Linked DNA regions of Homo sapiens: region 2 is linked to region 1. A link means that fine-mapping ties the variant in region 1 to the expression of a gene that starts in the linked region. Tissue or cell type: whole blood. Region 1 holds a variant in brackets; the other region holds the start of a gene. All regions are shown on one strand. Distances are between the middles of the regions.

Region 1 (6,456 bases):
CCCTCAGGTGATCCACCCGCCTCGGCCTCCCAAAGTGCGGGGATTACAGGCGTGAGCCACCATGCCCGGCCAGCTCTTCTCAGTTTGTATTAGCCATATTTCAATTTGTATTACTCATATTTCACTAAAACCGTGATACTGGCATAAAGACAGACATATTGCTATATGTGGCCACAGGTTACCATATTGGACAACGCAACCACAGGGCCTGAAAAATGAGTTGCTTGCCAGGCACGGTGGTGTGCACCTGTAGTCCCAGCCACCCAGGAGGCTGAGGTGGGAGAATCATTTGAGCCCAAGAGTTCGATGCTGCAATGAACTATGATGACACCACTGCACTCCAGCCTGGATGACAGAGGAAGACTCAATCCATGCTTATTGTGATAACAAATTCCCCATGTATCCAAGTTGTAAAGAAAGGTAAGATGTACCTAATGAAGGTGTGGGCTTCATAATAAATCACAGAAATATCTGTTTATAATGATAGCCAATATTTATTTAGCACTTTCTATGTACCAGGCACTGTACCACAAGCTTCACAAGGGTAATCTCATTTACGTTAATCCTCACAACACCTAATAAGAGAATAATAATGGCTGATATTTACATAACATTGTTCTAGACATTTTGCATATATTAACACATTTGATCCTCAGGGAACCCCATGATGTAGTTTCTACTAGTTTTCAATTTTAAAGATCTGAGACACAAAGAGTTTAACAGCCTTACCTAGTAAGTACAGAGCCAGCATCTGTGTACATGTATTTTAAAAATATACATTATTATTTTTCTAATCTTAGAAAGAGAAGAGTCATATTGAATGATTTGATTTCAAGTACATTGAGCAAATGAATCAAAGATCATTTTATTCTGTTGAATGATACATGGCCATAAAAGATGTTGTGACTATGCAGTACTTGTTAAATTTTATCTTTATCTTTGAATAAGATAAAGCAATCCTATCAAAACTCACTAAACTCTTTATGACCCCCAAAAGGCCTGTGGAACAAATAAACCCATGAGAGATGAGCCCTCTTTTCCGACGTAATAGCCTTGGGGGAGGTGGACCAGAAAGCTGCTGAGCCTGCTCTAATTGGCACAAACAGGGAAGGAAAAAATCTCATAAAACGTTGTCTTGGGCTTTTCAACTTTCTCTGGACAGGATTCCAGTACTATTAAGGCATATCTCAAAAGTGCCCCTAATTTCATGTCTGTGGCCAGTCATGACTATTTTAAGAACACCCTGAATTATAAGAATAGGTAATGGTGCCATCTCCTTCTATAGAAAAGCATTTTTAAAAGTTTTTGTTTTATAGAAATATCCATCCTAAAATTTATGTGAAATTTCAAGAGACCCTGAATGGTCAAAACAATCTTTAAAAAGAAAAACAAAGTTGTAGGTTTTACATTTTCTGATTTTGAAACTTTTAATGAAGCCAGAGTCACTAAAACAGTGTGCTCTTGGCATAAAGACAGACATATAGACCAATGGAGTAGAAATAGAGCCCAGAAATAAACCCTCCTATATATGATCAAATGACTTTTGGCAAGGGTGCCAGGTATATTCAACTGGGAAAGGACAGTCTTTTCAAGAAATAGTTTTGGGAAAACTGGATATCCACATATAAATGAATAAAGTTAAAACCCTACCTTATACCATATACAGTAATTAATTCGAAGACCTAAAATAATTAGATCAAAGACCTCAAATAAGAGCTAAAACTATAAAACTTTTAAAAGAAAACATAACGTTGTTTATAACGATTGTTCATAACGTTGGATTTAGCAGTGATTTCTTGAATATGACACCAAAAGCACAGGCAACAAAAGTGAAAATAGATAAAACTATGCTCTAGGCTGGGCGCTGTGGCTCACGCCTGTAATCCCAGCAATTTGGGAGGCCGAGGCGGGCGGATCACCTGAGGTTGGGAGTTCAAGACCAGCCTGACCAACATAGAGAAACCCTGTCTCTGCTAAAAATACAAAATTTAGCCAGGTGTGGTGGTGGGCGCCTGTAATCCCAGTTACTCAGGAGGCTGAGATGGGAGAATCGCTTGAGCCTGGGAGGCGGAGGTTGCAGTGAGCTGAGATCGTGCCATTGCACTCCAGCCCGGGCAACAAGAGTGAAACTGTCTCAAAAAACAAACAAACAATGCTCTAAAGGACACAATCAGGGTAAAAAGGCAACCCACAGAATGAGAGAAAATAATTGCACTCCTATATCTGATAAGGGGTTAATATCCAGAATATACAGAGAGTTCTCACAGCAAAACAAACAACCCAATTAAAAATTGGGCAAATAAGCTGGGCACAGTGGCTCACGCCTGTAATTCCAGCACTTTGGGAGGTTGAGGCAGGAGGATCATGAGGTCAGGAGATCGAGACCATCCTGGCTAGCACAGTGAAACTTTGTCTCTACTAAAAATGCAAAAAAATTAACCAGGCATGGTGACGTGCACCTGTAATCCCAGCTACATGGGAGGCTGAGGCAGGAGAATTGCTTGAACTGGGAGGTGGAGGTTGCAGTGAGCTGAGATCACACCACTGCACTCCAGCCTGGGCAACAGAGCAAGACTCCGTCGCAAAAAAAAAAAACAAAAAAAACAAAAAGGGCAAAGAGCTTGAATAGTTATTTCTCCAAAGAAGATATGCACATGGCCAAAAAGCACATGCAAAGATGTTTGACATCACTAATCATTAGGGAAACGCAAATCAAAACAACGAGCTACAATCTCATACGCATTAGGATGGCCACTATCAAAAATATGAAGAAAATAACAAGTTTTGGTGAGGATGTGGAGAAATCAGAATCCTTGTGTACTGTTGATGGGAATGAAAAATGGTGCAGCTGTTGGCTGGGCGCGGTGGCTCACACCTGTAATTCCGGCACTTTGGGAGGCCAAGGCGGGTGGATCACCTGAGGTCAGGAGTTTGAAACCAGCCTGGTCAACATGGTGAAACCCCATCTCTACTAAAAATACAAAAATTAGCTGGTCGTGGTGGCGGGTGCCTGTAATCCCAGCTACTCGGGAGGCTGAGGCAGGAGAATCACTTGAACCCGGGAGGCGGAGGTTGCAGTGAGCCAGCATCACGCCATTGTACTCCAGCCTGGGCAACAAGAGCAAAACTCTGTCTCAAAAAAAAAAAAAAAAAAAAAGAAAGAAAAGAAAAGAAAAGAGAGAAAAATGGTGCAGCTGCTATGGAAAACAGTATGGCAGTTCCTCAAAAAATTAAACATAAAATTTTCATATGATCCAGCACTGATACTTCTGGGTATATATCCAAAAGAATTGAAGGCAAG[G/A]TCTTGAAGAGTTATTTGTACACCCATGTTCAGAGCAGCATTATTCACAATAGCTGAAACATGGAAGCAACCCAAATGTCCATCAACAGATGAATGGATAAGCAAAATAGGATATATCCATACAATGGAATATTATTCCACCTTAAAAAGGAAGGAAATCCTGACATATGCTATACCATGGATGTAGCACCTTGACAACATTACGCTAAGCCAGTCACAAAAAGACAAATACTGTATGATTCCACCTATATCAGGTACTTAGTAGTCAAATTTATAGACAGAAAGTTGAATAGTGGTTGTTAGGGGCTGGGGAGAAGGGAAATGGGGAGTTGTTTAATGGGTATAGAGTTTTAGATTGCAAGATAAGAGTTTTGGAGATTGGTTGCACAACAATGCAGATGTACTTAACACTATTGAACTATATGCTTAAAAACGGACAGGTTGGTAAATTTTATTTTATGTATATTTTGCCACAATTAAAAAATGGTTTTGAATAATTTCACACTTAGAAAAGATTTGCAAGATTAGTACAGAGAATCCTGAAGAATCTCCACCAGAGGCATTTTATCATATTTGCCTCCTTATCTCTTTATTTCTCTCTCTCTCTTTCCATATATATATACACACACACACACACACACACACACACACACACACACACATAAATATACACGAATTTACACCTAGTAGTTTTAGCATCCATTAATGATTCTTGCCTGGATTATTACTATAATGGCCACCAAATAGAGATTTTCCTATGTCCATTGTTTCTTCTACATTTATTACTTGAATTCTATAGTAAAGTATCATTTCCTTTCCCGTATCCTCTTTTTTTTTTTTTTTTTTTTTTGAGACCAAGTCTTGCTCTGTTGCCCAGGCTGCAGTGTAGTGGCGAGATCTTGGCTCACTACAACCTCCGCCATCCAGATTCAAAAGATTCTCATGCCTCAGTCTCCTGAGTAGCTGCGACTACAGGTGCACGCTGCCACACCCAGCTAATTTTTGTAATTTTAGTAGAAATGGGATTTCACCATGCTGGCCAGGCTGGTCTCAAACTCCTGACCTTAAGTGATCTGCCTGCCTCAGCCTCCCAAAGTGCTGTGATTACAGGCATGAGCCACTGGACCTGGTCTCCTGTATCCTTTTTAATTAATTTTTTATTTATATTAGTGTGGGCTTAAGGATTCCCAATTTATTCAATAAGTTATAATTCCTTACAATCATAATTTACTTTGATGACTAGATTGTCCCTGATTTGGCCAGTGGGAGCCTCTTTACACTGGCTCCTGTGTTCTTTTGACATTTCTCATCTGTATTAGTTTGCTATGCCTGCTGTAACAGTGTACCACAAACTCGGTGGCTTAAAACAGCTGCAGTTCTCATGGTTCTGAAGTCCAGACATTCAAAATCAACTTCACTGGGCCCAAATCAGGAATATTAACACGGCCATGCTTCCTCTGGGCTCTAGGGGAGAATTCGTTCCTTGCCTCTCCCAGCTTCCAGCTGGCACTTGGCTTGTGGCTGCACCACTCCAGTCTCTGCCTCCTGCCTTCTCCTTTTGCGTAATCTCTCTCTGCCTCTCTCTTACAAGGATACTTGTGTTTGCATTTAAAGTCCACTTGAATAATCCAAGACAATCTCCCCATCTCAAGTTCCTTGATCATATCTCTAAAGATCCTTTTTCTGTATATGATAATATTTACAGATTCCAGAGATTAGAGCTTCAGGGGCCATTACTTAGCTTACTACATCCTCATTCTTTGAATACTTCCTTTCTTCCTGAACCAGTAAGATTTTTCACTGCCCTAGTCATGAAATCAGCCATTTCTCTAAGAACTTTTGGTTTCTTTTTAGTGAAGAATGATACTTGGAAGTCAAGATGTAGATGCTAGGTGCACTCATTGCTATGGGTGTGTCGGTCTTGCAAGTCCTTTCAGTAGGACAAGGAAACAAGATATCAACTAGGAAAAATATGTCTGGACACACACACACACAATCATACGTATGATGTACATTCCGAAGTACTGTAGTGGAGTTGGCTCATATGGACTTGCAAAAGCTGCTTGTTAAATATTCAGGAACTTTGCGGGTGGCTGTGAAACTAGTATTATTTCATGCTGGGAGTATTTACACCGTGGAAATCAGCAAATGCTACAAATTAGTGTGTTTTGAAAAACCAAAAAGCCACTATACATATCATAAACACACACATCTACTCTTCTGTCTCTCTTTGTATATCATATATAATATTCACACACACACACACCCTATAGGCTCACACCTCTGACTCTAATTACAGGGTTTGTTCTAGTCTTTCCCCTTTTCATACTTATTGTCTCCAAGAGTAAGAAACCTGGCTCTCACTATTCTCAATATATTTTCTTATTTGCTCAATCTCCTGACCACATGGGCCATCTCCTTGGCCCCATTCTTACTGACCCTGACCTTGAGCTGCAGGCTTTGCCATGACCCTGCCATTCCTGACCATGAGAACCATTTATTTGGCTCTGAACCTAGTTGTCCTGACCTTGTAAGCTACTACCTCAGCCCCAGACCTGCCAGCCCAGATCACCAGAGTCTCCTTGGCCCAGGCTCCACCAGCCCTAAACTCACTTAAACAACTCTTGGCCCCAGCCCTACACATTTTCTTGTTTGTCTATTCTTCCAATTAAAAACGCCCACTTCGTCATTGTTTTTAACTGCCTGATGTTGAGTGGTCAATTTGATTTTTTCACATGGTTGGGTTAAAGACAGGGTTGCCAGATAAAATACAGGATGACCAGTTAAGTTGAATATGGGACATACATACTTATATTTAAAAATTATTTATTGTTTATGTAACTCCAAACTTAACTGGATGCCTTGTGGTTTTATTTGCTAAATCTGGCAATGCTAGTTAGAACTACAAATAAGTGGCCAGGCGCAGTGGCTCACGCCTGTAATCCCAACACTTTAGGAGGCTGAGGTGGGCAGATCACCTGAGGTCAGGAGTTCGAGGCCAGCCTGGCCAACAAGGTGAAATCCTGTCTCCACTAAAAATACAAAAATTAGCTGGGCGTGGTGGCAGGTGCCTGTAACCCCAGCTACTCGGGAGGCTGAGGCAGGAAGAACTGCTTGAACCCGGGAGGTAGAGGTTGCAGTGAGCTGAGATTGTG
Region 2 (4,244 bases), 42 kb before region 1:
TTTTTCTGTAACCCATCCCAATAAAGATCTCACTATCACGACTCTCCCAAAACTGCTTTTGTCAAGATTAATCATCTTTATATTGCTAAATCCAATAATCAGTTGTCAGCCTTTATCTTCCTTGACCCATTAACATTTGATACAGTTGATCATGACCTATCAACATTTGATGCAGTTGATCATGCCCTTCTTCCTGAAACATTTTCTTCACTTGGCTTCAAGGACACTGCGCTTTCCTGACCCCTCCACTTCACCGGCTATTTGGTTACAGCCTCCTTTGCTAGTTTCTCCTCATTTCCTCCACCTCCAAATGGAATGGAGTGCCTCAGGGCTTAGTCCTCTGTGTACGCTCATTTCCTAGGTGGTCTCACCTAGCCTTTAACTACTAGCTGTATGCCGAAGACTCCCTACTTAAATCTCCAACCCGTATCTCTGTCCTAGACTCCACACTCCAAATGCCTCTACAACATCTCCTGGGTGTCTCATGAGGATCTCAAGTTTAGTAAGCCCAAAAGCAGACTCTTGATCTTTCCCCCACCCTAAGTCAGCTTGTCCTACAGGCTTCCCCATCTTGGTAAAATGAAAACTTCACCCTTCCAATTGTTCAGGCCAAAACCTGTGGAGTCATCTTTGGCTCCTTTCTTTCTCTCTTATTCCAAGTCTGATCTGTTAGCAATCCACCTTCAAAATCTATCCAAACTTTGACCACTTCTCAACACCTCTACTGTTACTCTACAGTTCCAAGTCATCATCTCTTGTTTAAATTATTGCAATAGTTTCCTAACCTGTCTCCCTGTGACCATCCATGACGCCCTACGATCTATTCTTAATACAGCAACTAAAGTGATTCTTTAAAAATGTGTCAGATCATGTCACTCATCTGCTCAAAAAGTTCCCCATGACACTCTAGCCAAAGTCCCTGCATTAGTCTTACTAGGCCCAATAACTTCTGTACCTGCCCCTCCCTTCCAAACTAAACTCCTAACTTCTTCCCCTTGCTTACTCATTTCCAGCCACGCTGATCTGAATGCTGTCCCTTGAACACACCAGACATACTTCCACATCAGGGCTTTCCCATTTACTGTTCCTTCTACCAGACAGCCAAATGGCAACTGTCCTCATCTACCTCAGTTTTGTACTCAGATGTCACTTTTTCAATGAATTCTTTCCCAACTTTGCTTTATTAAAAGTGCAAGCCCCCACCTCCAGTTTTTATCCTACACCCTACTATATTTTTCTCTGTTGCACATATCACCATTTGATATGTTATGTTTTACTTGTTAATTTCTTTATAATCTGCTTCTCCTACTGGAGAGTAGGTTCCAAAAGAACAAAGAATTTAGTCTGTTTAGTTCCCTACTGTATCCTCAGCACCTAGTAGGTGCTCAATAACTGTGTTAAATGAATATAGGTTGAGCATCCTAATCTGAAAATGGGAAACCCAAAATCTGAAAGTTTTTCAGCGCAGACATGATGCCACAAGTGGAAAATTCCACACCTGACCTCATGTGATGGGTTGCACAAAATTATTTAAAATATTGCATAAAATTACCTTCCAGCTATGTGTATAAGGTGTATATGAAAAATAAATAAATTTCCTGTTTACACTTGGGTCCCACCCCCCAGATCTCTTGTATATATGCAAATATTAAAAAAAAAAAAATCCGAAATGCTTCCCAGTCCCAAGCATTTCAGATAAGGGTTACTCAATTTGTAAATGAACTGTAGGTGCCTAACAAATCTCTGTTCAATGTGTGAAGGAATAAATAAAAGGGTAGATGCGCCAGTCATATAGCCAGCCGCAGCTCACCTAGCCTGACCAAGTGAGAGATGCTGCATCCTGACGCCACTACTGTAAGGATTAATCAAGGACAGCATGTAAAACTTCAACGCCGTGCGCGGCTCTCTCTTTCCTTCCCCTTCTCTCTTTCCAGTGAAGGGGACGGCTCCTTCCCCTTCTCTCTTTCCAATGCAGATCCTTCAAATCCTAAAATGTCGAGGCAGCCGCGTGCTGTGGGACCACGTCCTCGCCCTCTACACCCGCATTTTGCAGATGCGAACCCAGGCTAGGAAGAGAGAGAATCGCCAAACCCTTTTAAATTTCTCACTCACTCACCCATCCCATGCCAGATCACCAACGGCAGCGGCGCCGGCGGGTCCAGATGCTGCAGCGCCCGAGAAGCGCAGGTCCATGGCAGGAGAGCCACAGCCAAGAGCCACAGGCAGCCGGGCGACGCCATCTTCGCTGTGTCACATGACCGCGGGCGCGAGACTCCGGGAACCGCGCTCCGCCCGCCTGGGCGTGGCGCCGCCGGTTGCAGATCGCAACCTGCGCATCCCGAACGGATGCCCAGCCTGATGGGCGTCGGCCCTACCCTGGAGCTTTCAGCGCGACAGGTCCCCCGCCAGACCCCGCTGGCCGAGTGGGGCTCTGCGCTCTCGTAGACCGCCCTCTGCGGTGAATCAAAATAATTGCTAACATATATTCAGTGCTGATCAGATGCTATCAGGCACTATTCTTACAACCTTTAACTAATTCACTCTTCATAACAATGCTGTATGCACTTCTCCCCCTGACAGGTGAGGACACTGAGGCACTGCGAATTGGCACTGAGTAAGGTGCCCAAGGTCACAGAGATAGCAAATTGGTGGTTCCAAAGTCGTTGCTCTTCACCACTGCCCTGTACTGCCTTTGCAAGAAACATGCACAGAGGAAGGAAGAAAGAAGGAGGGACGGTTTCCAGCCAGGACCAATCATGGCAGGGTGTGGGGTTTGTTCTGGATATTGAAGGAGAGGTAGGATTTCAACAAGCAAAGATGAAATTCAGAAGGACTGAGATGAGCTAAGGTAGAGAGGAGAAAGACAACTGTGTTTTCTAGAAATGTCGGGACTTCAAGACGGACGAAAGCATATGTTGGATGCATAAGAGTGAGGGGGAAACCCATGGCCACTAACTGGCCTAATCTCAGCTGGATTATTTCAAGGGTCTCTCATCAACCATTTCCTTTTCCATTCTCTCCTCTTTAATTCATTTTATGCTCTATTGCCACATTCATCCCTCAATCCACCTTCATAATATCAGTTCCCTGCTCAAGTTTTTTTTCAACAAAACATCAAAAAATAGTTTAAATAATTTATAAAGAAATTAGAGTGTATCCACTATACAATGGAATAATATGAGGCCAGTTTTATAAAAAATGAGTATAGGGCCGGGCGCGGTGGCTCACTCCTGTAATCCCAGCACTTTGGGAGGCTGAGGTGGGCAGATCATCTAAGGTAGCGAGTTCGAGACCAGCCTGACCAACATGGAGAAATCCCGTCTCTACTAAAATTACAAAATTAGCCGGGTGTGGTGGCGCATACTTGTAATCCCAGCTACTCAGGAGGCTGAGGCAGGAGAATCTCTTGAACCCGGGAGGCAGAGGTTGCGGTAAGCTGAGATCATACCATTGTACTCCAGCCTGGGCAACAAGAGCAAAACTCTGTCTCAAAAAATAAGAATAAAAAATAAATAAAAAGAGAGTACAGCCCAGGCAGCATAGCAAGACCCCATCTCTACAAAAAAAAAATTTTTTTTTAATTAGCCAGGGGTGGTGGTATGTGCCTGTAATCCTAGCTACTGGGGAGGCTAAGGTGGGAGGATCACTTGAGCCCAGGAGTTCAAGGCTGCATTGAGCTATGATCTCGCCATTGCACTGAGCTATGATCTCGCTGTTGCCCTGGGCAACAGTGAGACCCTGTCTCTCTCAAAAAAGAAAAATGAGGTAAATTTACATAAAGTGACATGAAAAATGCCCTTAATATGTTGTAAAAGAAAAGTCGATTACAAACCCACGGTCTGTAATCTCTTCTATTCCATGCCATTGGGACTAGAGGTAAGTTGTTAGTTGAAAAGTCGATTAAAATGCAGAATCCACTGGGCGCACTTTGGGAGGCTGAGGCAGGTGGATCACCTGAGGTTGGGAGTTTGAGACCAGCCTGGCCAACATGATGAAACCCCATCTCTACTAAAAATACAAAAAATTAGCCGGGCATGGTGGTGGGTGCCTGTAATCCCAGCTACTCAGGAGGCTGAGACAGGAGAATCACTTGAACCCAGGAGGCAGAGGGTGCAGTGAGCCAAGATTGAGCTACTGCACTCCAGCCTGGGCAACAAGAGTGAAACTCTGTCTCAAAGAAAAAAAAATGCAGAATCATAAAGCATTATACAGTACAGTATACAGTTTTGTTTTAAGAAAAATAA

Evidence for each region. PIP is the estimated chance that this variant, and not a neighbour inherited with it, causes the effect.
Region 2: PPT1 starts here. The variant in region 1 is fine-mapped to the expression of PPT1 in whole blood (TOPMed, PIP above 0.99).

Annotation. Positions count from the first base shown.
Region 1 is chr1:40,135,451-40,141,906 of GRCh38, forward strand. No RefSeq gene overlaps it. Among named protein-coding and RNA genes, the nearest start is that of RLF, 23 kb to the right of the region's middle. The variant G/A (reference allele first, on the strand shown) is at 3,302.
Region 2 is chr1:40,094,999-40,099,242 of GRCh38, forward strand. PPT1 (palmitoyl-protein thioesterase 1) reads right to left here and starts at 2,254. Exons shown (of 9, transcript NM_000310.4): 1 at 2,117-2,254. The coding sequence starts at 2,240. RefSeq lists an enhancer at 1,989-2,118.